Homo sapiens: one gene and its partners. The protein of the gene in region 3 purifies or fractionates together with the protein of the main gene of each other region. This does not show direct contact. Each region holds a gene or a part of one and is shown on either strand. Other genes may lie near its edges.

The links.
Region 1: the proteins of IRAK2 (region 3) and LTF purify together in Homo sapiens (affinity purification with mass spectrometry; one large-scale study listed by BioGRID and IntAct). This does not show direct contact.
Region 2: the proteins of IRAK2 (region 3) and IQCB1 purify together in Homo sapiens (affinity purification with mass spectrometry; one large-scale study listed by BioGRID and IntAct). This does not show direct contact.
Region 4: the proteins of IRAK2 (region 3) and LYN purify together in Homo sapiens (affinity purification with mass spectrometry; one large-scale study listed by BioGRID and IntAct). This does not show direct contact.
Region 5: the proteins of IRAK2 (region 3) and SENP1 purify together in Homo sapiens (affinity purification with mass spectrometry; one large-scale study listed by BioGRID and IntAct). This does not show direct contact.
Region 6: the proteins of IRAK2 (region 3) and YTHDF1 purify together in Homo sapiens (affinity purification with mass spectrometry; one large-scale study listed by BioGRID and IntAct). This does not show direct contact.
Region 7: the proteins of IRAK2 (region 3) and PELI2 purify together in Homo sapiens (affinity purification with western blotting, with the first as the bait; one study listed by BioGRID). This does not show direct contact.

The regions. Positions count from the first base shown.
Region 1 is NC_000003.12:46,438,026-46,440,905, forward strand, and holds part of LTF (lactotransferrin isoform 1 preproprotein), read right to left. Parts: intron 1,456-2,880; coding exon 1,271-1,455; intron 105-1,270; coding exon 1-104. UniProt on the Homo sapiens protein: Transferrins are iron binding transport proteins which can bind two Fe(3+) ions in association with the binding of an anion, usually bicarbonate. Lactoferricin binds to the bacterial surface and is crucial for the bactericidal functions.
Region 2 is NC_000003.12:121,825,061-121,828,560, forward strand, and holds part of IQCB1 (IQ calmodulin-binding motif-containing protein 1), read right to left. Parts: coding exon 3,410-3,500; intron 1,121-3,409; coding exon 991-1,120; intron 1-990. UniProt on the Homo sapiens protein: Involved in ciliogenesis. The function in an early step in cilia formation depends on its association with CEP290/NPHP6.
Region 3 is NC_000003.12:10,220,419-10,223,918, reverse strand, and holds part of IRAK2 (interleukin-1 receptor-associated kinase-like 2), read right to left. Parts: intron 1,284-3,500; coding exon 1,088-1,283; intron 1-1,087. UniProt on the Homo sapiens protein: Binds to the IL-1 type I receptor following IL-1 engagement, triggering intracellular signaling cascades leading to transcriptional up-regulation and mRNA stabilization.
Region 4 is NC_000008.11:56,011,752-56,014,669, reverse strand, and holds the end of LYN (tyrosine-protein kinase Lyn), read right to left. Parts: 3' UTR 501-2,918; downstream 1-500. UniProt on the Homo sapiens protein: Non-receptor tyrosine-protein kinase that transmits signals from cell surface receptors and plays an important role in the regulation of innate and adaptive immune responses, hematopoiesis, responses to growth factors and cytokines, integrin signaling, but also responses to DNA damage and genotoxic agents.
Region 5 is NC_000012.12:48,064,580-48,068,079, forward strand, and holds part of SENP1 (sentrin-specific protease 1), read right to left. Parts: intron 2,387-3,500; coding exon 2,348-2,386; intron 1,102-2,347; coding exon 1,017-1,101; intron 642-1,016; coding exon 486-641; intron 1-485. UniProt on the Homo sapiens protein: Protease that catalyzes two essential functions in the SUMO pathway.
Region 6 is NC_000020.11:63,199,132-63,202,631, forward strand, and holds part of YTHDF1 (YTH domain-containing family protein 1), read right to left. Parts: coding exon 3,156-3,500; intron 1-3,155.
Region 7 is NC_000014.9:56,299,218-56,302,024, reverse strand, and holds the end of PELI2 (E3 ubiquitin-protein ligase pellino homolog 2), read right to left. Parts: 3' UTR 501-2,807; downstream 1-500. UniProt on the Homo sapiens protein: E3 ubiquitin ligase catalyzing the covalent attachment of ubiquitin moieties onto substrate proteins. Involved in the TLR and IL-1 signaling pathways via interaction with the complex containing IRAK kinases and TRAF6.

The DNA of each region.
Region 1 (2,880 bases), about 36 Mb from region 3:
CTGGCCAGACACTCAGTGTTGTCATTGAACAGAAGGTTTTTGGTTTCAGACTGGAATAAGCAAAACTTGTCCGGGCAGTCAGATCCATTTCTCCCAAATTTAGCCTGCGACAAAAGGGCAGACAGTGAGTAGCTAAGGAAAAGAGGAATTTATGGGTTAAAGGAGGCAAAGGGGTATTTCTTCCACCCAAGAACAGCCCTGAGAAAACCATGGGGCAGAAGGAGCTGAGTTCTGGAGTCATTCCACCTCCTTAGTGGAGTCCCCCACCCCACACTCCTGGTGGCAGGCCCGCCTTGGGCAGCATCCAGGCCTCGCACCACTTCTGGTCCTACCTCCTACCATCTGCCATCTTTCCTTCCTTCTTAACCTGTGACCTTTTCCCATACAACTTCTTATGGGTGACAAGGCAACAATGGAGGGGTTTTGAGATCTGCCCTCACAAGTCAATTGCTCAGGACATTCTAATATGCAGCTCTTCTAGAGAGGCAGGCTGCTAGGAAAACCCAGGCTCAGCCACTAACCAGCTCAGTGTGCAGGTCGGTCACCCTGCCTCCCTCACACAGTTCCTGCTCTGTCCCAGGCTCCCATGTGGGGAGACTGAGACCCAAACCCCTCAGTCACGGCAGCTCTCTCACCAGCACCACTGTGTGTGCACATTAAGAGCTCCATAAAGGCCAGTTATGGTGGCCAGTCTTGTTATTCCTGAGTTGTTTTCTTCAAAAGCACACAGAGACATGATGTTATATGATAAAAATAGAAGTTCTAATAAAATCCCAGATTTTAAGAAAATTTTGGGATTTCGTTCAAATCACATTTAGAGAGCCCTAAATCTATAGGGCACCTTCTGAGTTTGCTGTTTTAGAGGCCTGGCCTAGAGCACTGTTCACTCGGCCCAGGTTCAGGAAATGTCACCTGAGTAAAAAGCACTATACTAATGCATGTGGGAGGAAGGCTCAGTGGCTTCCTCATTTGCCAGAAGAACAGCAGGAGGGAAAAAGACAGCCTCTGAGCCAGGCAGTGATGGCAACAAGGCCAGGGCACAGAGTCTCAGCAGAAATGGAGTGAGTCCCAGAAAGCCCAGAGTCAAAAGCCTCTGTTGTTCTTGTTGACACTCTGGGCAACGCCACAGCATGAAGCCAATACTCTCACCATGAGCTTCAAGTAGAGGACTAGAGAGGATCGAGTGGGCTGGTGCACCTAGCTCTGTGATCTCCTCACCTAACATGAGCCCACACAGCTAAGAAAGCACTAGAAGCCCTGTGGTCCATACCTGTTGGTGGAGCAACACCTGTTTCAGGCGTTCCACCTTATCCATCCGAGACACCACGGCATGATTCGGGGCCATGGCAAGATGGCAGCTTCTAGCCTCAGTCACAGGCTTCCGTTTGCCATCGAGGCACAGCAGCGCAAAGTCTGCCAGCTTCAAATCCTTAGCCCATGCCTCATTGTTATTTCCTGGGGAGAAAAAGAAGGTGGCATCATCCACGCCTCCCCTGCTTAGCCAAGAAGTCTCTTCTGGGTGGGTGTGGCCATTCCACTGACCTCCCAAATGCACACACTGGGGTTGTGGTGATGTGAGGAACAGAGAAGGAGCTTCATCCTACACAAGCTGTACAAACTTCAAATATACCAAATATTAGTGCTGTGTCCATGCAATGGAATGTTATTCAGCAATAAAAGGGAGTGAAGTTCTGGTACATCCTGCAATATGCATGAACCTCGAAAACGATGCTAAGTGAAAGAAGCCAGTCACAAAAGACCACACAATAGGCTGGGCACGGTGGCTCATGCCTGTAATCCCAGCCCTTTGGAGGCCAAGGTGGGAGAATCACTTGAAGCTAGGAGTTCATGACCAGCTTGGGCAACATAGCAAGACCTCATCTCAAAAAAAAAAACCCACCACATATTATATGACTCCATTTATATGAAATGTCCAGAATAGGCCAACCTATGGAGACAGAAAGTGGATTGATGGTTGCCAATGCTGAAGAAGGATAGGGCAATGACTGATAATAGGTGCAAGGGTTTCTTTATGGGAGGATACAAGCGTTCTAGAGTTGGATTGTGTTGATGGCTGCACAACTCTGTGAATGTGCTGGAGATCACTGAATTGTACACTTTGCATGGGTGGATTTTTTAGTATATGAATTCTACCTCAATAAAGCTGTTTAGAGTTCTTATTTTTTTAAAGAAGAAAACCCTCCACCTATGCCATATTTTTCAGTGAGTTCCAGAAAAAGAATAGATGGTTTACATTCAAGGAGAAATTGGTTTCTCCTCCCTTTCATATTCAAATGCTATTAGTGTAACCAGAGAAAGGAAAGGAACTTTTATAGGTTTATCAAATATATACAGCCAATTCTAACAAAATACAGTTGTAAAGTACCGGAGAAAGTTAAAATTAAATTTGACATCAATCTGATCCCTGGAGATTACTTCAGTTAATGGCTTGTAAATTCTAAATGTAATTGTATGCATGTCTATGTTTGTGCAGATGCCGGCTCATTGTTCCGGCTCCCGTTTGTCTCTCTGCTCTCTCCCTTTAAGAAAGCACTTTATTCATTCTCTTGGATTCCTCTATTTGATATTGAAATAATTTCAAATTTACATGTCTTGTTTTAATCTCTGTCCCAAGAGACACTAGAAGGAGCAGAAGCAGAAGGGAGAAGTGGCTGAGACTGCAGTGATTACTGAAGGAGGGAGGCCGAAAGTGGAGACAGTTCTTTCTCAGGAAACAGAATAGCAAGTCACCTGCTGAGACTTGGGGGTTGGAATGCTGAAGTGGGGCTAAGGAGACAGATGCAGATTGGAAGGTAGCAAATGGCTGAGGACCAGGAGAGAGAGTGATTGTTCAAACATTGGCTGGAAGATTATCTTCCA
Region 2 (3,500 bases), about 110 Mb from region 3:
CTTTTTTTTTTTTTTTTCAGATGGAGTTTTGCTCTTGTTGCCCAGGCTGGAGAGCAATGGCACTATCTTGGCTCACTGCAACCTCTGCCTCCTGGGTTCAAGTGATCCTCCTGCCTCAGCCTCCCAAGTAGCTGGGATTATAGGCATGTGCCACCATGCCCGGCTAATTTTGCATTTTTAGTAGAGACAGGGTTTCTCCATGTTGGTCAGGCTGGTCTCAAACTCCCAACCTCAGGTGATCCGCCCGCCTCGGCCTCCCAAACTGCTGGGATTACAGGTGTGAGCCACTGCGCCCAGCCCACAAAAGTTTCTTTTAATGAACATTCACAAAGATAAAACATATGCGGAGGGCCATAAAACAAGTCTGAAAAAATTCCAAAGGATTGAAATGATATAGAGAATGTTATCTGACCAAAACATAATTAAATTAGAAATTGATAACAATAAAGTATCTAGTAGATCTTCAAATATTTGGAAATTAAGCAACACACTTCTAAATCCCTGGGTCAAAAAAAGAGCACATGTATAGCATCTAGCATAATGCAACCAAGAAATACTTGAAAAGACCCCTATGTTTGGGTTGAATATTTTGACTGGAGAAGATATGAGAGATCAAATAGGAAGTTCACCTTTATTCTTCACTACTGGAGCTACTTAGAAAAGCCCTAGCCCTAGAGAACATACTTTCCTCTACTGTTAATTTAAGTAAAAAGTATGTTTAGAAAGATGTTATGGAAATAATTGTCTATGGGTGCTGCCCAACAAGTAAAGTAGCAAGGCAGATCCTTCAAAAAATCAAATGGCAAGCTTCAGTCAGCATTAAAAATTTTTCAAACATAGAGATGATTTTTGGAAGGTTGTAACTTTGAAAATGTTTAAATTCACTACTTTAATTGTACTTTCAGCCAAATATTGCACATTTAAAAAATAACAGAACAGCTTCTTAAGAATTAAACTGATTTAGCTACAAAAGACTAAATAAACACATACCTTAGCTGCATTGATAAAACATGTTTGTAATTGTCTCCCCAAAACTAGAAAATTTTCTGCAGCTGATGGAAGTAATTCATTGTAAAATTCCTCTGCATCTTCTCCTGGCTCCAAGCCCACACAGCAATGGCTGAAATAAGAGCACAAGTTCGTGTTAATTAGAAGTTTATGTTGAATGCTCAAGCTTCTAGAGACACTGTGCCTTATTGAGAATTTTTAGTATGCTTCTTTTGTTACCAAGACAATAAAGAATTTTTGTTGAAAAATTAGTCTAACAACTTTCTAGAAAAGTAAACAGTGGTATGGACCATGCTTGTACTTAGGTCTGGGATTTATGTATCCTAAAAACCTACATATCAGCTCATTCAGCAAATAAAAGACACTTGGCTCACAATAAAGAGAAGCTAAGTTTTCAGTGAATTGGCTATAATCATTCTCAAAGCTATAGGATACCTTGAGAGTTTAATTTATGAAAAGCATTTGTGTTAACTAATACATTTTAGACACCTAATAGCTGAAAAATGCCCAAGTAGGATTTGTTTGCAAGGGATACATAAGGAAACCAAACACTAATTTCATACCAATTTTACCTTCCAATAGATCTACTTTTTGCAAAATACTCATTTGCATATTCCTTATATCAGAAGGACAAACGGCAAAACCTAACTCTAGTAGGAACACTTTACAATATACATTAGAGGAGAGAAAGTCACTTAGAGAAAAAGGTCCTCTTAAAATTGTACATAAAAGTCATTTCCTGTACATAAGTCAGAAGTCCCAATAATAAAAGGTTTTTCTGTAAACTAACATTCAAAAGAGCCTCAAACCCAAGAATGGTCTCTATGTGTGTACTCTAATGAACAAAAACTGCTGTTTGAGTCTTTTCAACAAAATGTATGGACACTAATAAGCAATAACAACTATGTATTGAGCATGTTAAAAATCTAAGTAATCAATGGCAGACTGGATAAAGAAAATGGTATATTTCTTTGGGGTGGTACATATACACCATGGAATACTATGCAGCCATAAAAAAGAACAAGATCATGTCCTTTGCAGCAACATGGATGGAGCTGAAGGCCATTAACCTAAGTGAACTAACACAAGAACAGAAAGCCAAACACTGCATATTCTCACTTATAAGTGAGAACAAACATTGAGTATGCAATTTACCTATAAAACAAACCTCCACATGTACCCCTGAACCTAAAATAAAAGTTAAAAAAAAACCTAAGTGGATAATATTTACATGTATCACTTTTTGTTGTTGTTGTTGTTTATTTGCACCTGGGTTCCTAAAGTTAATGGGCTAATGCTCACATGTATCAGCTTTTCTTTTCTCTTTGGTTCCTAAAGTTAATTACTTAAGAGTATCTTTTTTGATTGAGAAGATTAACAAATGAAATTATGTTTATTTGTGCATTCAGAAACATGGGAATTTCTTAAGTCTTGAATTCCACCCGAGAGCCTGGCTTAATCAATATCATCATAAACTAGCATATCGAATCAAAACAAAAACATAAGGCTTTATTTACTTAAGAAAATCAATCTTGAAAATTAAAGTATGAAAAAGAATATCACATATATTTTTCAACTGTTCTTTGTAACTGTGTGCTTTAAATTTGGCCTTTACCAAGTAACACAGTAGGATTAAGCAGCTTAGAAATCTAGCATCCAAGACAAACCCTTTCAGTGGGAATAGCTTATTAAATTCAAATGGCTTATTTAGGAAAAACAAAAAAAGAAGGCTAGGATCCAGTTAGTAAATACACACTTTCACTTATTAATCAGGAAGTAGCTTAGGCACTAAGAACATCTGGTTTATTTTACTACCTCCTTTAAAAAATGTTTATTTCTCTTCTATTAATTTCTAGCATGGCAGTAGATCAGTAAATTCTACTTCTAAATTTTATTGACAGTATTTGGGTTGCTTAATGAAATACACAGTTGATAGCTACATTGATATAGTGAAATAAAATGTTTCTTTATCAGTTCTCCTATAGTACTTGCTTGCATACTTTCATTTTAGCACTGATTTCATTCTGCTTTGTATCATATACTTACATGACTGTCACCCAATCTCTATTTTAAGTTTCTCAGGTACAGAGCCAGTGCCTTAATTTCTTCACTTCTTTAAAAATTCCTTAATCAATAAAAAGTATATTAGGCACTTGGAATTCAGTGGTGAGAAAAAAAATGATCACCATCTTCATTAAGCTTGTGGAGGAAAATTTTAGACAGTCAAATAATCTGAAGTAAAATTATGAATAATAACATATAATATGAAGGAAAAGTACAACCAAAACCTACAACAGGAGGTTGCCAATGCTTGTTAGGCAGATAAATAAAAAGCAAATGTTGAAAATCAGAATCAACTACTACATCCCTCAAGAACAGCTGACTTACTGCTTTATTTTACCTTAATATCTGTGTAAGCTGGGAAATTGTAGTCCAACCACCCTGGATTCGAGAATAATCTTGACTGAGGACCAAGAGGCAATATTGAATGA
Region 3 (3,500 bases):
GGGCAGAGGTGACTCAGGGCCACGGTTCTGGTAGCAGAGGTAGACAGACAGGAGACTGTGGTCAGAGAGAGGAAGTACAGAGTTCAAGGCTAGAGAAGAAAAGAGGGTGAGGCCCAAGGGGCAGCTGTATGCACTTGGCTGAAGCCAACCTGACTGTTACTCTTCTCAGCCAGCATTTCCCAGACTGGGTTCCATGGAACACTGACAAGGACAGATATTCTGAGAACACAAGGTTCCATAGTCAAATGAGCTTGGGAAACACTGCATACCCCTCTCTGGTGAATTCACAAGTACCAGATTAAAGGCTCACTACCATTCAACCAGCTTGAATTAATCTTGTGGTAAAGAAACCTGCTTGACTTTGCCTAATGCAATATTTCCAAGCCTGTCAGGGCACAAACCCTTTTAACACATCAATCCTAGAGGTCCGAAGGAACTGGAGTTCTACAGAAATATACTTTGGAGACTGCTACATGCAGACCATGAGCTCCTGAGGGGAGGGACTGTGTTTTTGTTACATTCATATTCCTAGTGCCTGGCACGACATAATGGCAGACAAGGATGGTGGTGGTGGTAGGGTGGGATGCTGGGTGGGTCAGTGGTCGCTGAATGGATGGGCAGCTAAAGGGTAGATGGATGATCGGACAGCGATGAACAAATAAGGACAAATAGACAACTGGATGGACAAGTGGATGGCTGGATGGGAATTACGGAAGTCAGGAGAGGATATCTGGAGCCTACTAGAACCTGGACACTCATGAGTGGTTTTCCTTCAAGGGCTGGCAAATTTCTTCTGTAACACGCCACACAGTAAATATGTGAGCTTTTGGGGAGCATGTTCAGTCTCTATCACATATTCTTTGTGTTTAAAAATATAATCCTTTATAAATGTAAAACTACCCTTAGCTCACAGACCATACAAAATACGCCACAGGCCAAAGTGGCCTGTGGGCCACAGTTTGTCAGCCCCTGTTGTACTTTGATGGAACCTGTCTGTGTGCCTCTACCGTATCCTGTGATTACAAAGGAGCCGTGGGAAGGACAAATCAAGGTGGGCCCCACTCTACGCAGAGCAGGACACTCTTACTATTCCACAGCTGAAGATGTCCACTCGCTTTGTCAGCTGCCCCACCCGGATGAAATCCTCTGGCAGATACGCGGCTGACGTCCGGAGCAGGTGAGTCTTCATCATGGTGTATTTTGACCTTTTGTTGACAGGACACAGATGAGCCATTGGGTGAGCAAGTTTGGGGGTGAGATTTTGGTCCAGCAAGACATTAGAGCTGTGGAAATGAAAGGAGAGGGAACCTTCTCATTTTGAGCTGGATAACAACAAGTTGCCATGGAGACCCTTTGGGGAGACAATATAGCAACCTCACCTCCTGCAAGTTGAGGTCTCTAAAGACCCTCAGCATGGAGCTTCTGAGCCAGCCCTGACTGGGGAAGAGAGGGCATCAGGAGCACACTCCCTCCAGCAAATGGAGATGGAGTTCAGACTTAGTCTTGCTGCCCCAGGAATGTGGCCAAAGTGCAGCCTCCCTGATCCCCACAGATGCCAACCCTGATCAGCCTCAGCTTGCCACGCCTACAGGCTGTGCAGACTCAGTCTCTTCCACAACTGTTCCAACCCCCAGCTCTGGCCTGGCTGACTCAGGTCTAAGTGGCCAGCATCCTTTGTGACTAAACCTGCCCAGATCATGTAAAAAAAGAAAGAAAAAAAAATTCCCTCTTGGCCGGGCACAGTGGCTCACGCCTGTAATCCCAGCACTTTGGGAGGCCGAGATGGGCAGATCACCTGAGGTCAGGAGTTCAAGACCAGCCTGGCCAGCATGCCGAAACTCCATCTCTACTAAAAATACAAAAATTAACCAGCCGTGGTGGTGTGCGCCTGTAGTCCCAGCTACTCAGGAGGCTGAGGCAGGAGAATTGCTTGAACCCGGAAGCAGAGGTGCACTCCAGCCTGGGCAACAGAGTGGTACACTGTCTCAAAAAAAATCATTTGATCTAGTCATCTAACCCCCAGGAGCAAACACTGAGAACATACTCCAAAATGGGAAAAAGCTAAGCCACATGTGTACAGATATATAGTGCAGGCCAGGTGCAGTGACTCATGCCTGTAATCCCAACACTTTGTGAGGCCGAGACAGGAGGATCACCTGAGCCCAGGAGTTTGAGACCAGCATGGGCAGCATGGCAAGACCTCATCTCTACTAAAACAAACAAATTCAGCACGGCATGGTGGTGCGTGCCTGTGGTCCCAGCTACTTGGGAGGCTAAGGTGGGAAGCTGCGGTGAGCTGAGATTGCGCCACTGTACTCCAGCCTGGGCAAAAGAGCAAGGCCCTGTCTCAAAAAAAAATTTTTTTTGGCCAGGCGCGGTGGCTCACACCTGTAATCCCAGCACTTTGGGAGGCCAAGGTGGGTGGATCACGAGGTCAGGAGATCGAGACCATCATGGCTAACACAGTGAAACCCTATCTCTACTAAAAATACAAAAAGTTAGCCGGGCATGGTGGCAGGCGCCTGTAGTCCCAGCTACTCTGGAGGCTGAGGCAGGAGAATGGCGTGAACCTGGGAGGCGGAGCTTGCAGTGAACAGAGATTGTGCCACTGCACTCCAGCCTGGGCCACAGAGCGCGACTCCATCTCAAAAAAAAAAAAAAAAAAAAAAATTTTTTTTTTTGGTATTTTTAGTAGAGACGAGGTTTCACCGTGTTAGCCAGGATGGTCTCGATCTCTTGACCTCGTGATCTGCCCGCCTTGGCCACCCAAAGTGCTGGGATTACAGGCGTGAGCCACCGCGCCCGGCCAAAAAAAAAACTTTTTTAGCGTGTGTGTGTGTGCACGCCCGCAAATGCACGGGTGTGTGTGCCAGGAGTGGTTAAGTAAATTATGGGCAAATTCCTTCACGGGAAGACTAAGACACTAAAAAACATGACGGTATACAATGTAGCGAAATGTTTACTATGTTTAAATGAAGGGGTAAAAAACAGGATGTGAATTGGTACCCAGGTGCTACCTCAGGACTAAGGATTTGTATAGGCAGGAAGTGAAAAAAGAAACAAAACCTAGAGGCCAGCTGATGAGTCATGGGGTAGGTTAGTGGTGACCTCTCTCACCCTTTCATTTCCTTGCCTGCTATTAGAATTATTGATGCAATCAAATAAAAATTAGGGGAGAGAGCCGGGGTGGTGGCTCTCACCTGTAATCCCAGCACTATAGGAGACCAAGGCGGGTGGATCACCTGAGGTCAGGAGTTCGACACTAGCCTGGCCAACATGGTGAAAGCCTATCTACTAAAAATACAAAAATTAGCTGGGTGTGGTGGCGAGCACCTGTAATCCCAGCTACTCAGGAGGCTAAGGCAGGAGAATCGCTTGAACCAGGGAGGTGGAGGTTGCAGTGAGCTGAGATCGCACCACTGCATTTCAGCCTGGGTGACAAGCGTGAAACTCCGTCTCAAAAAACAAAAAAAAAATTGGGGGAGAGAAAAGAGGAAAGG
Region 4 (2,918 bases), on a different chromosome or scaffold from region 3:
CTGACTTGAAGTATTTAATAGATTTATCAGCACACAGGAAATTAAATTGGAAGGCTTTCCTCTTACACGTCTATCAAGTTAAAACTTTTCAGGATAAAATTTTTATCAGTTTTAGTAACATTCATGTTATGAAATGGAACATAAATGCTACTGAAACTTAATTTTTTTTTTTGTAGAGACAGGGTCTCATAATGTTGTCCTGGCTGGTCTCAAACTCCTGGCCTCAAGTGATCGTCCTGATTCAGCCCCTCCAAAGTATTGTGATTACAGGTGTGAGCCACTGTAGCTGGCCAAAACATTTTATTCTGAAGTGTAGTCTCTACAAATTGTCTTTAAAAGTGTGAATGGTAAGTTAAATTCTTGCATTACTTTTCTACCCAAATAAAATTACTTAAGGAAAAATTTCCCCTCCCATCTGTGTGGGCTCAAATGGTGCATCTTGTAAGTAATACCCTTGCTTACTCAGAACACTCAGCTGAGTCAGGGAGATTCTACACAAAGGTGTTTCACTGGTTTTATTTCACAAGGAAACAATATGAAGCGAAGCCAATCTATTCCTTCTGTGGCTTTAAATGCTCCCGATCTCTCAGCTGTGAAATAGTGATAGCATTGTCCAGATCTTCCAGGGTCGTTGTGTGAGTTAGAGATAATTTTTATCATTTGCCAAAGCACAAGAGGGCCCTGAGTAAAGAATGTGTGTATGGGTATCTTTGTATGTTTATAATTACCATTTCCATCAGGAAGAACAGCAAGACTTCACTTAATCTAAAATATTCGTGGAGTTAAAATGTAGGGAATAGAGAACTACGATCTCTCTTCCACCAGCCAGAAGTGGAAAATAAAGGAAGATGCTAAGAGGAAAGCTGGGCGGTTTGATCTCATCTGAGAGGTGTTCTTGGCTGAGGAAGCAGGAGATGTCCGACAACTGGCTGTGGAACCTGGCAGTGACATCAGAAGAGCTGGGGAGCGAGCCCTAGGACCAGCATTTAATTTATTTGAAGGTGTCAGAAGCTGAGGTTGCAGAATTGAGTCCTTTTAGCAGCTACCGCCCCTGGATGTAGTTTGTGAGAGGACGGGGAATAAAGAGAAAGCAGACCCCGACCGGGCACAGTGGCTCACACTTGTAATCCCAGCACTTTGGGAAGCCGAGGCAGGCGGATCGCCTGAGGTCAGGAGTTCGAGACCAGCCTGGCTAACATGGTGAAACCCCATCTCTACTAAAAATACAAAAATTAGCCAGGCGAGATGGTGTGTGCCTGTAGTTCCAGCTACTAGGGAGGCTGAGGCAGGAGAAGAATCGCTCCAACCAGAGAGGGGGAGGTTGCAATGAGCTGAGATCGCACCACTGCAACTCTAGCCTGCGTGACAGAGTGAGACTCTGTCAAAAAAAAAAAAAAAAGAGAGAGCGAGAAAGCAGACTCCACAAGCTGACGTGGAGATGAGTTTATACTTATGATGCTTTCAGTGCCCTCGATCTATCCCTGGTGTAGGCAACAAAATTAATTCCCTCCTTTTAGTTATTATCCTTTTATGCACCCTTGGGACAGCCAGGGCTGCTGGCTTCTGTGGCAGTGAATTTCCCCTAGAAGGGGGCTTGGACAGTACACGTTCCCAGTGGCTCATCAGAAGTACTTTCTGCAAGGGGATTCTGTGGAACCTCAGGAGGTATGCCTGGAGAAGCCACGGAAGCCCCAGGTGGCCCCTACTACTAAGGACACTGGTTTCTAGCCTGTGAGTCTCCTTTAGGTTCAGTGAGCTTCATGTTCACCAGGAAGGAAGGCACGTTTTTTTCCTCCTTCCTTCTCTTCCACTCCCCTTTGAGAAATGAAACCATCTGAGGAAAAAGAAGGCTGGGCTTTGTAATATGGGTCAAACCAAATGGTGACTCTCAAGACTGAGCATACATTATATTCACCAGGGAAGGGTTTTTTTGTTTTTTTGGTTTTTTTTTTTGAGACAGGGTCTCACTCTTGCCCAGGCTGGAGTGCAGTGGCACGATCATAGCTCACTGCAGCCTTGACTTCCTGGGCTCAAGCAATCCTCCCACCTCAGCCTCCTGAGTAGCTGGGACCATAGGTATGTGCCACCACACTTAGCTAATTTTTAAAATTTTTTGTAGAGACTTGCTATATTGCTCAGGCTGGTGTCTAACTCCTGAGCTCAAGCGATCCTCCTGCCTTAGCCTCCCAAAGTGCTGAGATTACAGGCATGAGCCACTGTGTCTAGCTGACTGGAGAAGCTTTTAAAATAGACTGACATACATCTCCCGCTGCACAACAGCTAAGTCAGAATCTTGGCGGTAGGGAGTATGGATTCTGTCTTTCCAGTTCTCTACAATAACCTGAGGTGTGATGACATGAGCCATTTTGCACACCACTGGATACCCGAAAATGCTACAAACACCTATTCAGCCCCTCATTATGCCTGTCTGTCACAGGGAGGCTGGAAACCTATAGCTAAGTAAGGAGACTGTGTGTGCTGTTCATCAAGGGAACGTGTGACTTCCACACATGCTGGACACCAGAGATGAGGCCCAAGCTGGTGAAGGGCCCACATGGAGGTAAGGATCACAGGCTTGATTGGGAGGGAAAGACAAGTGGAAAATGGCAAGAAGAGGAGGAACTGGGAGAAGCAAAACAAGGCGAAGATAAATTTAATAATTTTCTTTAAATAAATTTGTTATGCTAAAAAAAAAACCTCTAGTCATTTTCTAGAGACTTCTTTTTGCCTTAGGGATTCTTTATAGTTCCTCTCCATGTAACATATTGGGTAATACTTGTGGTTCTGAAATAAAATGCAAGCAGGGGGGTGTACACAAAAACCTTACCACTGAATCAAGGGACCAGCTGTGCAGACATTATGTAACAGTAATATTCTATAGTTCTGAACATGGCACTTGTGAATCAATAATTTTAGAA
Region 5 (3,500 bases), on a different chromosome or scaffold from region 3:
TTTTCAATATTTTAAAAATAAAGCCCAGATTGGTATATAAAATAAGCGAAAGCTGAAATATACAAGAAAATTTAAATAACACGTGTTCTATGGCTTTTTGTGTGTGTGTGTATGTGAGATGGAGTCTTGCTCTGTCACCCAGGCTGAAGTACGGTGGCATGATCTCGGCTCACTGCAACCTCTGCCTCCCGGGTTCAAGCAATTCTCCTGCCTCAGCCTCCTGTGTAGCTGGGATTACAGGTGCATGCCACCACACCCAGCTAATTTTTGTATTTTTGGTAGAGATGGGGTTTTACCATGTTGGCCAGGCTGGTCTCGAACTCCTAACCTCAAGTGATCCACCCGCTTCAGTCTCCCAAAGTGATGGGATTACAGGCGTGAGCCACCGTGCCTGACCACTATTGCTTTTATGTTTGAAACTCATCCGAGGGATTCTTTCTAAACATGATACTTAGTAGTGTAGAAATTAAGTGTATGTAACTTACCTCTGTAATTTCAGGAAATTCATCTTCACTATCAGTTAATTTATGACCTTTTTTTTGTGTTTCTTGGACAACAGTAACAGGAATCTCCTTTTCAAGAGGTACACGAAGATGTAGTTCTACTGAATCATGTACTGAATGTTCCCGCTCCTGCAATCTCTGAAAGATAAAACTTCAGAGTAAGTGGGATAAAGAAATCTGTGGATGTTCCTTGATTTATGATAGGGTTATGTCCCAATAAACCTGTCATAAGTCAAAGAGCGTGCTTAAATGCCCATTGCTTTCGCTTTTTTGTAAAGTCAAAAAATCATTAGTCGAACCATCACAAGTAGGGGACTATCTATATTTGTCTTATGTACAATGAGTAGCACTGACTGGACAGACCAAGAACATTTACGACATATCATAACATGCTATGCTACCATACGATCTTGGAATTACAACAGCAATTACCCAAATCTGGGTAACTTTCCAAAATAGTTTCTACTTTGATGTACTATTTATTTGTAATATTATTCCAATTTTCTTTTTTACCTGGTTTTGAAGCTGTAAGGCCAATGCCTTCTGTTCTTCAATCTGGCGCAATCTTTCTCGTGCTCGAGAATCATAAACACTAGTTCTAGAAAATGAAAAGGAACGTGACCAAATGTAGACCACTCTCATTATGAAACATATTGTTGATGTACACTGAATATTAAATACAGGACCCTCACAAAGAAAGTCTAAAATCCTTACACTAACTTATCATCCTTATTTTAAGACATAGAGTGAAACCACATAATGTTACTGAAATTACTCTACCATTTTTACTTATTATTTTTTATAGAGATAGGGTCTCACTACAGTGCCCGGGCTAGTCTCAAACTCCTGGGCTCAAGCGACCCCCCTACCTTGGCCTCTCAAAGTGCTAGGATTACAGATGTGAGCCATTGCACCCGACCTATTTTTACTGAAATTACTAAAAATATTAGTGTGCTGCTAAATGTGAACAGATGACTTGTTAACATTTGTAAACACACAGTTCTTTTCTTAACATGCTTTTAAGATTATAGTGAAAGCGAAACTTCAGTCTGGAAATCCAAAAATGGGATTGAACCCTAAAGGAGAAACGAATACAAGATATCACTGAAGTTTAATTCAAATACTTCATTTTTGATAGATTTTTAAAAAATTACCGAGACCGAGGGGTTTGGATAACTTAAGTTCCTTAAGTGAGACTAAATGCTTTCAGTGATTTTGCAAAGTCCAGAAATATGAATTATTCAATAAATTAGTTTTACAAATGCCAAAATAGGATCATTTATTTTCCCTATTATATAATAGCTAACTCTATTTTTCCAATTTAATTTAGCTTCAACAATTGTTATAGATTTAATAAACATAAGTATAGAAATGTTCCAACTCCAACAATATTTTGAAAACCCAACAACTTAAAAGTATAAACAGGCACTTCTTTTTTTTTTTTTTTGAGATGGAGTCTTACTCTGTTGCCCAGGCTGGAGTGCAGTGGCGTGATCTCGGCTCACTGCAACCTCCACCTCCCAGGTTCAAGCAATCCTCCCGCCTCAGCCTTCCAAGTAGCTAGGATTACAGGCGCGTGCCACCATGCCCAGCCAATTTTTGTATTTTTAGTAGAGATGAGGTTTCACCATGAAGGCCAGGCTGGTCTTGAACTCCTGACCTCAGATGATCCACCTGCCTCAGCCTCCCAAAATGCTGGAATTACAGGCGTGAGCCACCGCGCCCAGCCTAAACAGGTACTTCTTATTGGCAAAAAATAAGCAGGATGATTAGCTAATTGTTTGATTTCTTCTAACTAAAAATGAACTGATTGAGAAGGAAAAATGATACCAAAAATAACTTACAATTCTTTGATCCACAGCTCTGCCTGGAAGAAAGTAGAACTATGGGTAGGAAAAGAAAAATTTGACAAATGAGCAGGAGGCTTATGAGAAAATTAAAATATTTTCATCAATAAAAACAATCATTTAAATTGTTTATATGAGTGCTTTACAAGTATGGAATAAGTAAAAGGAATCTAAATGACATAAAATAATTGTAACTAGGAATTAAGGAGACACAATCCTTATGCATACATATTAGTTAAAATCATATGGATACATATTAGTTAAAAAGGTGACCCAAAGTTCAGCAGAGATACTACATTTGGCATAGCTCCCTACTTGCATGAGACCAACATTACGTGAAAGAGGACATCACTTCTCAAAATAATACATTAAGCTAGAACATTGCTCTTCCCAAATGACTCAGATTGAAAGATTTATTAAAAATCCCCACACACAAAATAATCTACATCAAATGGCTAACAAGCCAATGAGCCAAAGCAGAGAATCAGCAACACAACTTCCTTCCAAAGATGACAGGCCAATTCTAGGTCCATGTGGCTCTGCTGACAACCCAAGTGATATGCTGAGCAGAGCCACAGACATGATTAATTGTCCTAGAGCCTCTTGTTTTTCTCAAACTTCCTTATCTCCAAACTCCTAACTAGGCAGGATCTATCACAGAAACACAAAGAAGAAGAGTGAACACTTTTCCAAAGAAAACTATTAAATATAGAGAACAAGTAAACAGAGCATCAAATTGGGAGTTAAGAGACCTGGATCAGAGGCCAGGCATGGTGGCTCATTCCTGTAATCCCAGTGCTTTAGGACGCTGAGGTGGGAGAATCGCTTGAGCCAAGAGTTCAAGACCAGCCTGGGCAACATAGTGAGATTCTGTCTCTTAAAAAAAAAAAAATGATCTGCAACTAGAATAGTGCTTGGCACAGAGTAGGCATTTAGTGTTGTTTGTTTGTTTTTTGACTCTCACTCTGTTGCCCAGGCTGGAGTACAGTGGCACAATCTCGGCTCACTGCAACCTCCACCTCTCGGGTTCAAGAGATTCTCCTGCCTCAGCCTCCTGAGTAGCTGGGATTACAGGCACCCGCCACCACACCTGGCTAATTTTTTCTTTTTTTTATTTTTATTTTAGTAGAGACGAGGTTTCACCATGTTG
Region 6 (3,500 bases), on a different chromosome or scaffold from region 3:
TCGAAGTCCTGAGAGAACCTTGAGAAAACCGCCCGGGGGCTCTACCAGCACAGGCGCACAACCCTCTCCTCGGCACACTACTTTGTTCTTAAAACTGCACTGACTCGGCCGGGCGCAGTGGCTCACGCCTGTAATCCCAGCACTTTGGGAGGCCAAAGCGGGCGGATCACGAGGTCAGGAGATCGAGACCATCCTGGCTAACACGGTGAAACCCCATCTCTACTAAAAGCACAAAAAATTCGCTGGGCGTGGTGGCAAGGGCCTGTAGTCCCAGCTACCCGGGAGGCTGAGGCAGGAGAATTGTGTGAACCCAGGAGGCAGAGCTTGCAGTGAGCCGAGATCACACCACTACACTCCAGACTGGGCAACAGTGCAAGATTCTGTCTTAAAAAAAAAAAAAACAAAACAAAACTGCACTGACTCTTCATGGGAAACCCAGAGGGAGAAAGCATTAGACACCCAGAGTCTCAGCCTCAAGACACCTAAGACTCCAATCCTGGATGAGCCACTAGCCCAGCCCGTTAAGCACAAGGCCTAGAGCACCTTCGCAGGCAGGGAGAGCCAGCAGCGAAGTCCAGTCTGGGGACCTCCTCAAGGACCACTTCCATTTCTCTACACTGCCCAATAAGCTTAAAAGATATTTGACGCCGGGCACAGTGGCTCATTCCTATAATCCCAGCACTTTGTGAAGCCAAGGTGGGAAGACTGTTTGAGCCCAGGAGTTCAAGACCAGCCTGGGCAACATAGCAAGACACTGATTCTACAAAAAAATACAAAAATTAGCCAGGCGTGGTGGTGCACGCCTGTAGCTACTCAGGAGGCTGAGGCAGGAAGACCGCTTGAGCCCAGGAGGTCAAGGCTACAACAAGCTGTGATTAAGTCACTGCACTCCAGCCCGGCAGACGGAGAAAGACCTGTCTCAAAAACAAAAACAAAAAGCTATTTGAGGCGGGGCACGGTGGCTCACACCTGTAATCCCAGCACTTTGGGAGGCTGAGGTGGGCAGATCACTTGAGGTCAAGAGATCGAGACCAGCCTGGCCAACATGGTGAAACCCTATCTCTACTAAAAATACAAAATTTAGCTGGGTGCAGTGGTGGGCGCCTATGATCCCAGCTACTTGGGAGGCTGAGGCAGGAAAATGGCCTGAACCTCGGAGGTTGAGGTTGCAGTGAGCCAAAATTGCACTACTGCACTCCAGCCTGGCTGACGGTGAGATTGGCTCAAAAAAAAAAAAGCTATTTGAAATTCCACCAAACATTAACAAACCAGGTTCTCATTTGTCACTTTCAATAAAATGAATTAATGTTAACACTGACCCATATGGGCCCAGAGTTCTCCAGCTTGGCTAACAGTTTAGGGGAGGGTTACCAAGTTCCTTCCAATGATGCTCCACCAGCGGCTCTGTTGGACTCGCCTTGGAGCACCCAGTGGTTTGAGGAACACTTGGATCTTGCCTGCAGGCAGATGCCCACAGACCCTGCAGGCCGCTTACCAAGATGCTTAACCCATAACCCGACACACAAAAGCAGTTATCTAGATCAAGTTTTTATAATGCAAGTTGTAGGACACTAGAGTTTTAAAAACACCAACCAGGTCAGGAGTCCGCACACTTTATGAAAACCCAAGTATTACGGTATTTAAGAAGAAAAACTGTGCGCGCACACACACACAGCCAGCTTCCAGTTTAGCCAGCTAAGGACCTAAAGCTTCATTAGCAATTATCCCTGCAACTTTAGCAATTCAGTATTCATTTTATACCTAAAAGTCTGTAATCCGAGCTATTGTCTGTAATCCCAGCTACCTGGAAGGCTAAGGCAGGACAATCACTCGAACCCAGGAGGTGGAGGTTGCAGTGAGCCGAGATTGCGCCACTGCACTCCAGCCTGGGCAACAGAGCAAAACTCCATTTAAAAAAAAAAAAAAGACCTAAAACACAGAATTTCAGTAACTAATTCAGAATTCAGTAACTGGAAATAAATGACATCCACTTCTTTTCTCACAAAAGAGAGGGACTGATACTTTTCCAAAGTTCTACAAGCCCCAAGTTGTTCAGGACTTGCATAATGTAAGACTGCAGACAGTGCAGGCGGCTCTACTCTATACATCCCTATATATGCCATGTACACGCCTTTCTGCCCAAAATACATTAGGACACTTGGTGCTCACAGGTGAATAATTCCTTTAACATAGAGAACTGAAAAAAACACTGAAAACCCATCTATTATCAACTGACATTTCAGGAAGGGATATTTTTTAAAAAGCAGGAGAGAATCTCAGGATGAACTCTCTCGAATAAAGGAAGCATTATGAAGTATGTCAGCATCATCATTTTCCCATTGCTGGTGCCAGTTTACGGGCATCTGAGCCCTTCTGAAGAGCAAACACACTCAATCCCGTCAGACATCACATGACAGCACAGACTCAGGAGTTTGGCTACAAGTATCCCAGGAAATCAGGACTGTCTCAAAAAGGCCCAGTCAATGAATTTTTGATATAGGATCCATATTTGTCATTATAAAATGTCTGGATTCCAAACCTACCCCACCACCACCATTTTCTTTACGACCTAGATGGAGTGAGTTTGTTTCCAAAAACTGCAGGATACTGGGTTTTTAAAAGAAAAATAAAGCAACGACCTCCAGATCAAAGACCAGAGATTCCCAACTACTGAGGGACAGTGCCCTGGGAAGCAAGGGCCCTTGGCCAGGTGGGGTCTCGATGCCCTACGTGCCCACCGCAGTGCTTCGTGAATATCACCTAAGTGTTCCTCATGGACGGAGGCTGGGAAGCACTGTTCCAGAAAGTATCACAATTCAAAAAGGAGAGGAGAAAGTTACCCTCAAATTCTTTGTAACAGAAAAACAGAATGTGTACACTGTGGTCCCAATTATTCAATTATAATTGGAAAGTGATCAAAGTCGTTCGGTGACATCTACCCAAATACCATCACTGGTTACTAGCAGTACTCTCCGCAGGGAAAGCCCACGAGGCTGCCAGGACCTGGGCCCGCCCACCTGCGGCCAACTGGGAGCTGCCTGTCACGAGACTCAGCTCGGCGGACCTGCCGCATCTGCTCACCACCGGGCCACCTGGTCTAAGTACGGCACCAAGGACACATCTGCATGGCAGTTGCCTGCAACACCCAGCCTCACCTTGCGCACCACCTCCTCCTCCTCCTGGCGCTTCTCGTAGTGAGCAAAGTCGTCGAAGATGGAGGTTGTGTGCTTGTAGGAACTGATAATTTTCAGCACTTGCTTGGCTTTTTCTAAGGGCACCTCCTGGGTGTCCCGGGAGTTTGTGACCGGTTTGTTGTCGTTATTCTCCAGCCTGATGTGCCGGAGCTGGTTATTGGGTACATCCTTAACAAAAATCCACTGGACATCAAACTTCCCCTTCCACTTGTCCTGAGACCAGACCCCGGCACTGGTGCCGTAGTCCACGGGGGACTTCATCTCGGCCACCCCACAAAAATGCCCACTCCCATTGACGCTGAAGAG
Region 7 (2,807 bases), on a different chromosome or scaffold from region 3:
CTTTGACCCATTTTGATTTAATGTTTGTATGCTGTGTGAGGTGTATTCCTTGCCCAATGGAATGTAACTTACAATTATAACCAGTTGTGATTTTCTATAACACATCTCACAATTCGTGGCATCTTAGATTTGACAAAGTATGGAACACTTATCCCCTGAAATAAAAGCCTATATAAATGTGCATTTTTTTTCTGGAAATGAAAAATCTGTTTCTCTCAATAATACTAAAACTCTTTGAATATCAATGTGATGAGAACAAAATTTGTCATAAATATATACATTTTCTTATGATAGATATATTAGTTTAAGGCTTCAAGGAAGGCTTGAAGGCTTATACACAATCCTTATTATGTTGTTAAAAGTGAATGAAGACTGTCACAAGAGCAGCAATATGGCTGAAATGATCATGACAAAAATCCATTAATTCTACAAGTCAGGTTAAATTCCCCTGGAAGTTAACTTTATTTGACAGTGATGTAATGTCACGAGAAATAGTAATATAGGCACCAAGGAAATTTCTTTAATTAAAAAATGTAGGGGATTTTCAGAATCAAGGTTTAAATATGTATTGTGCAGAATATAAAACAATTAATAAACTCAACAGCTGGAGATTAACTTGGAAGTTAGAGAAGTGAAAAAAATCAGTTCTACTCGTATCAACCTACTAAATGTCCTAATGAACTCAGTGACAACCACAGAATCTGAAGACAATGGCTCACAAACAGGCTGATATCCATTTAATAGTTTTTGAAGATTTTTTCCTGTAAAATGGCTTGTATTTCCACAGGTACAATAGTGAAGAAATAAACTTTTCAATTTGACATGAAATATAAAACAACAATTTTACAAACATATTCATAAAATTTAACTGCTAATAACACAATACATGGTAAATGTGACCATCCCCTTAACTTCTAGACTATTTAATACAGAGAAGCAATCTGTCATCTCAGCTAAAAAGAAACATCTTTCCTTTCATTGAGTTTATTTTTGTTTGTTTAGAAACTGTCAAGCAAAACTGGAAAATACTTATTTTCCTTATCTTCCTCTAGGGATTCTTCATGAGGGCAAAGACTTATTTGAAAGGATGTAAGTTATACTAAAAAGAAAATACTGAACCTTTTTTTTGTGTTACTGCTTCAATGATGCTTAGATTATTTTAAAAAGATGCTGAAGTCGTCTCATTGGTCGCACAGAAGGAGGCGCATCATAACCTAAGCCACAAAGGCTAAACTACTGGGACAGAAGATTGACAGTAAAGGGATGGAGATGGATTTGGCTTAAAATCAAAGTCCTGTGGTTTGTCTATCAGAAATTCCACTGTTATGAGGCAAGGCTGCAAGAAGATAGTTTTTACCCAGCATTAACAATGGTGTAATCACACACCCTTTCAAGCACATCCAAAGAACAGAATGGCTTTAAAAAAGAAAAGAAGTGAAACAAAACCATAGAACTGCAGGTAACAATTCTACAACCTATATTACACTTCAATTAAGCAGAAAACTCTCGTAAGTGTCCACACAATACTGAGCTCCCAAATAACAGAGGTTTGAGTTTTTCCATGAAAAAAAAAAAAAAGACATTGAAGCTTTATGAACTAAAGAGTTCTCCTCAAGTTTCCCAATACAGTAAATGTAATAACTTAAAATAATTTCCCTATTGGTACTGGAAAATAAATTCTACTACAATCATGTTTATGCCAGTTTCTGACATATTTCTGCATCCAGATTCATTAGTCTCCTTAATGGAGCCCATCATTTTTCCAATGGCTTTCTCCTTTCTTTAAACCCTAACCCTGAAATTCTATAACCAGTTATATCACGTGGCTTCCCTGAGGCACAAAGGTACCAAAGTCTATAATTAACTATCGAGGAATGATAAATATGTTCTCTATTTATATTAACAGATTTTAATTCTTTTGGGCCACAGTTGGGAGAAAAAAATCCAGAAACCTTAATACTCTGCAGGGTGAACTGTAGCCCTTTTTGCTAAAAGCTGAACCAAATAAGGGAAATGTTGAGAGTTGCAGCATGCATGACCCGGCAGCACCGATTATTAATAAAAAATTCCGGACTAGAAAAATACTCAGAGTTGTACTCCATCCACTCTGAATCTTTTTTTTTGTAGTAAACGACATAAACAACTGAAAAATATTTCTATGGGAATACATCACTGGGACTTTTACTTCTGGAAAGCTACTTGCAAAAGGCATTAGAGTCAGGCCAAGACAACTAATTGGTCTGCAATTTCCTTGTGTATACACATGGGGGAGTGGGGCTAGTCCTTTAAAGTGATGGCAAGACATAAAAAAAGAAGTGACCTTGGAGAAATTACTTTTCTGAATTGCGTTTCTCCACCTTGGTGAGCTACAGAGTTCTTTATTTTCACAAACTAACTCAACTGTGAAAAAAAAAATCTCCTTAGTCAAAATTGTAAAGGGATCTTCCTACAAGTGGCCAAGAAGAGCCTGGTGTCCTTTTTGCTGATTTGCCACCTCTCTGCAGTTCCTTAGGCAGGGTGGGCGGGACCTGACTTTGGAAGCCAAAGGAAAAGATGTGGAGCCCATGGAGGGCGGTTCACTGTTACCCCTTCCAAGAGCTTGGAAATTATTTCCCAAATTTCAACTTATATTTAAGCTGAATTTACTAAAAGTCAGAAACTTTTAGTTAGACATATGCCCAACTACGGGACGTGTCCAACTTGGAAGGTAACTTCATTTTGGGGGATATGTCACGTTGCAGAATGACTAGACTTATAAACAGGACTTGAAATGGAAAATTATGATATACCTAACTCTCTGGAAAAAT